2 separate regions of the Homo sapiens genome follow, and region 1 is linked to region 2. Evidence: fine-mapped expression QTL. A gene starts in region 2. The other region holds a variant in brackets. All regions are shown on one strand. Distances are between the middles of the regions.

Evidence for each region.
Region 1: its variant is fine-mapped to the expression of KIF11 in whole blood (INTERVAL, PIP 0.96).

The regions. Positions count from the first base shown.
Region 1 is chr10:92,554,166-92,556,665 of GRCh38, reverse strand. All of the region lies in intron 1 of IDE (insulin degrading enzyme), which reads left to right. Among named protein-coding and RNA genes, the nearest start is that of IDE, 19 kb to the left of the region's middle. The variant G/TG (reference allele first, on the strand shown) is at 1,169.
Region 2 is chr10:92,591,595-92,594,617 of GRCh38, reverse strand. KIF11 (kinesin family member 11) reads right to left here and starts at 1,488. Exons shown (of 22, transcript NM_004523.4): 1 at 1,166-1,488. The coding sequence starts at 1,242. RefSeq lists silencers at 1,084-1,153, 1,234-1,283 and enhancers at 751-1,502, 1,604-1,653, 1,684-1,873, 2,684-2,773.

The DNA.
Region 1 (2,500 bases), 38 kb after region 2:
CTGCCTCAGCCTCCCGAGTAGCTGGGATTACAGGTACCCACCACCACGCCCGGCTAATTTTTGTAGTTTTAGTAGAGACAGGGTTTCACCATGTTGGCCAGGCTGGTCTCGAACTCCTGACCTCAGGTGATCACCTGCCTTGGCCTCCCAAAGTGCTGGGATTATAGGGGTGAGCCACTGCACCCAGCCTGATTTTCGTATTTTTTGTAGAGACAGGGTTTCACCATGTTGGTTAGGCTGGTCTCGAACTCCTGACCTCAGGTCATCCACCCGCCTCAGCCTCTCAAAGTGCTAGGATTACAGGCATGAGCCACTGTGCCCACCCAGTATTTTATTTTTTGATGCTATTATTAATTGTTTTCTTATTTTTAGTTTGTTCATTGCTACTGTATGGAAATACAATTGATATTTTTATATTCAAGATCATGTCTTCTGCAAATGGAGCTAATTTTACTTTTTTCTTTCTTTTTTTTTTTTTTTTTTTTTGAGACGGAGTCTCGCTCTGTCACCCAGGCCGGACTGCGGACTGCAGTGGTGCAATCTCGGCTCACTGCAAGCTCTGCTTCCCGGGTTCACGCCATTCTCCTGCCTCAGCCTCCCGAGTAGCTGGGACTACAGGCGCCCGCCACCGCGCCCCGCTAATTTTTTGTATTTTTAGTAGAGACGGGGTTTCACCTTGTTAGCCAGGATGGTCTCGATCTCCTGACCTCGTGATCCACCCGCCTCGGCCTCCCAAAGTGCTGGGATTACAGGCGTGAGCCACCGCGCCCGGCCTACTTTTTTCTTTCTAATTTGTACGCCGTTTATTTCATTTTCTTGCCTAATTGGTCTGTTTAGAACTTCCAGGACAGTGTTGAATAGAAGTGGCAAGAGTGGAAATCCTTGTCATCTTCTTGATCTTAATGGTAAAAACATTATCTGTCACCATTAAGTACGATGCTAGCAGTAGCTTATTCATAGAGTCCCTTTTTCAGGTTGAGGAAATTCTCTTTTATTCCTAGTTTGATCAGCATTTTTGTCATGAAAGAGATATACTGTATTTTTGAAACAATCTCATACTGAAAAGTTTTTATTGTACAATATAGTGCAAATAATTTTTTTCCTGAACCAATTACAGTAATTTGACCATTGGATACTTTAGTGTGATTTTCTTTTTTTTTTTTTTTTT[G/TG]AGACAAAGTTTTTTTCTTGTTGCCCAGGCTGGAGTGCAATGGCACTATCACGGCTCACCGCAACCTCCGCCTCCTGGGTTCAAGTGATTCTGCTGCCTCAGTTTCCCAAGTAGCTGGGATTACAGGTATGTGCCACCATGCCTGGCTAATTCTGTATTTTTAGTAGAGATGGGATTTCACCATGTTGGTCAGGCTGGTCTTGAACTCCTGGCCTCTGGTGATCCCCCCATCTCAGCTCCCAAAGTGTTGGGATTACAGGCGTGAGCCACTGTGCCCGGCCTCTTTAGTGTGATTTTCTATATCATCACAATACCATCAGAATCAGAAAATTATCATTGATGAATAGAAATGAGAGTGGGCATCCTTGTCATGCTTGTTCCTGATTATAGAGGAAAGGCTTTCAGCTTTTCACTGCTGAATACGTTCATTGTTTGCTTGTCTTCCATGGCTCTTATTGTACTGAAGTACACAATGGAGGTATTCCTTGTATACCTAATTTGTTGAGAGTTTTTACCGTGAAAGGCTGTTGAATTTTGTCAAATTATTTTTCTGCTCTATTTTTCCCCCCTTTTTTCACAGCTCCTGCATGTGGCATCTGAAAGCTATCTGTGAAGAGGTATTTTTCTGTTTGTTTTTTTTTTGAGATGGAATTTTGCTCTTGTTGCTCAGGCTAGAGTGCAAGAGTACAGTGGTGAGATCTTGGCTCACTGCAACCTCTGCCTCCCAGGTTCAAGCAATTCTTCTGCCTCAGCCTCCCGAGTAGCTGGGATTACAGGCATGTGCCACCACGCTTGGCTAATTTTGTATTTTTAGTAGAGACGGGGTTTTCCCATGTTGGTCAGACTGGTCTCGAACTCCTGACTTCAAGTGATCCGCCTGCCTTGGCCTCTCAAAGTGTTGGGATTACAGGCATGAGCCACTGCACCTGGCCATCTTTTTTTTTTTTTTTTTAAGACACTGTTGCATTCTTGTCAGCCTGATTGGAGTGCAGTGGTGCAATCATGGCTCACTGCAGACCTAAACTCTTGGGCTCAAGGGACCTTTCTACCTTAGCATCCCTGAGTACTTGGGAATATAGGCATGTGCCATCATGCCCAGCTGTTTTTGTAGAGACGGTATCTTGCTGTGTTGCCCAGGCTAGTCTTGAGCTCTTGAATTCAAGCCATCCTCCCACCCCAGCCTCCCAAAATGCTGGGATGACAGGCATGAGCCACTATACTTAGCCTTTTTTCTGCATCTATTGAGATGATTGTGTGGGGTTGTTCCCCCTTCATTCTGTTAATGTGGTATATCACATTTATTGATTTGCAATAAGTGTGTTGATGTTGAAC
Region 2 (3,023 bases):
TAAGTCTGAAATATTTTGTAACTAACATTAAAAAAGAAATTAAATAAATGCATACGGAAAAGGTAATATTGCCTGGTTTTATTAAACAACCAAAATAATTTTAAAATTTGCACTTGTTATATGCACTGCATTTTTAAATAAAAATCTTCAAACAACTAACTACTAACAGAAGCCCCAGAGTACAACAACTAGTAAGTGTCACTGGCTAGACTTAAGATTGCCACCCAATTTCCTCTCTGACACCTTGTTTAGAAACCTAGTCATCACCTTCGATATCCACAATTCAAGTTACCAGGGCTGAGTAAACAATAGCCTAAGAAAGTTTGTTGATACAAGTTTTTCTAAAAAATAACCTTTTAATTTTAGAATACTTTGGGGTTTACAGAAAAGTTGCAACAGCAACTGTTAACAGCCACAAAAACGGACACACAAAACACACATACTCAGTAAACTGTGGAGAGCCTCTAAAAAGTTGAATAAATCAATTCTAACTAAGCAGCAGTTTCTAGCTTATTTTAAAATTGGGAAGTTATTTGGAAACCAGTCAGGGGAGGGCCGAACACCCCTCCACATCCCTTTATCTCGAAATATCCGTTTAGTTTGGTCTATGAACAAACACGCAGATGAAAGGGAAAACTGCAGCACAATCAGAAATTTACACTAGCTTAACTTGTCTTGATCTTTTAAAAAACATAAACTCACTTTATTAATTTTTAATGTTTAAAGACAGAGATGTTTACTTGTTTAGTAGGGATGCAGAAAATATTGCATCTAGAATAAAGAGAACAGTGATTGATTGCTTTTTAGAGGTAATAATACCAACGTAAGTGCTTAACCATCTGCAAAATAGGTATTCAGTCTTACTTCCAAACTGACAAACTACATGAAGTAGCATATAAAAGTGACACCTACATCTTTATTGACTATAGTTTAAACATAAGAACGCACTTTTCAGTATGGAACAGTGATCAAATCAAACATGTTATTTTCTCCTAAAAACCACATACACACAGCAACCGGGTGTCATTTTTATTGAACAGAACGCGGAGAACCAAGAAACTGGGACCCTCAGGAAATGCAAATAAAATCCCTCTCCCTGGACCGCGCAGTAGGGGGCCCAGCAGCGAAGCCGCAGCGCTCGGAATCCTGTCAGCCCTCTCCCTACCTGCATCTCACCACCACCTGGATGTTCTTCCCCTTCTCCTCTTTCTTCTTCGCAGACGAATTTGGCTGCGACGCCATGACGGTCCCCGCCAAAAAATCAAGGCCCGGCCGCGGACCTGGGCGCTGTGAGGGGCGGAGGGGCTTGGCGGCCGACAGGGGCCGGAGTCTCCCTGGTCCCTCTCGGGCGCTGGCGTGGCCTGGAGGACCGACGCACGCAGGTCGGCGTCCCCGCTCTCTACCCGGTACTCTGGCCGTGGCGTTTGTCCCGCGCCAGTCGGAGCCGCCAAATCACTAATCTCGTCTCCGCCCGAATCCCCAGAAACTAAGCAACGACTCGGCGCCTCAATTTGAAAAAGAGACAGAGTAGCCGGACCAATGGCTGCGCTGGCGCGCAAGGCACCATGGGATGCAGTATCCTCACTGGAGCCCCGCCCCCGGAGCGTGGCCTACGGGAACGTAAAGAGGTGGTCTGTCTGCTTGCTCCGGAACTTGGTAGTCCAGAGCCGAGACGCTAGAATTGAGTGTGGAACTTTTAGCGTAGCGTGGCTCAACTTACATAACGTCCCTAGCCCAAAATTCCCTCAGCTGCAGAGAGGAAATAATAGTAACCATCTCAGAGGGTTAGGGTGAGAATTAATGAGCTTGTGGAAGTAAATAGATTGGAATATATGGTAAGCACTCGCCATGATTATAATTATTAGAGAATTGTAAGAGAGGGCAGTAGAAGCACAGAAGAGAGGTCCAAAGCGAGCCGCCATCCCGGAGGCAGAGACCAGAATAGTCTTTGTGTGTGTGTGTGTGTGTGTGTGTGTGTGAGAGACGGAGTCTTGCTCTTGTCACCCAGGCTGGAGTGCAGTGGCGCGATCTCGGCTCATTGCAACCTCCGCCTCGCAGGTTCAAGCGATTCTGCTGCTTCAGCCCCCGAGTAGCTGGGATTACAGGTGCGTGCCACCACGCCCGGCTAATATTTGTATTTTCAGTAGAGATGTGGTTTCACCATGTTGGCCAGGCTGGTCTCGAACTCCTGACCTCAGATGATCCACCCGCCTCGGCCTCCCAAAGTGCTGGGATTACAGGCGTGAGCCACCGCGCCCGGTCCAGAATAGGCTTGAAGAATAATTAATGTTGGGGCCCGGTGGCTCAGGCCTGTAATCCCAACACTTTAACGGGCCGAGGTAGGACGATAACTTAAGTTCCAGGAGTTTGAGACCAGTCTGGGCGACATAGGGAGACCCCCCTCCCCGCGCCTCCCAACGGGTCTCAACAAAAAATAGAGGGGAAAAAATAGCCTGGTGTGGTGATGCGTGCCTTTTGGTCCCATCTACTCGGGATGCTGAGGAAGAAGGATCGCTGAACACGGGAGATAGAGGCTGCAGTGAGCCGGGATTATGTCGCTGGATTACTCCAGCATAGGCGACAGAGCAATGCCCTTTCTCAAAAAGAAAATAATAATAATAATAATTAGGAAGTGTTAAGCGATAAGGCTACTACAGGTTCCAAATCGTGATGAAATGGACACTGGACGCCATTTGGAGGACTCTGAATTTATCCTTTAGTCATCATCTCTAAGTGACTCCAGGCAAGAAAGCAGGGTCCGCCTCGATTTTAGAACGACTGCACTGACCGAGTGACGCAGGCCGCGGGTGCGCTGCGCTCCCCGTTTCTGCGCGGCGCAGCGGGCGGTGGCATCTCAAGGAAGCTGCGCAAACATCCGCCGCCCCGGCCTACGGATCCCAGCATGCAGCGCTCGCTGGGGCCTGCGCGCCGTCGGTCACCTCCGGCCTGCTGCGGGAGAACTTTTCGGCGTCTTGGCAGTGCCTGGCGTGACTCGACCGCTGTAGGTGTGGTACGCCGCACCA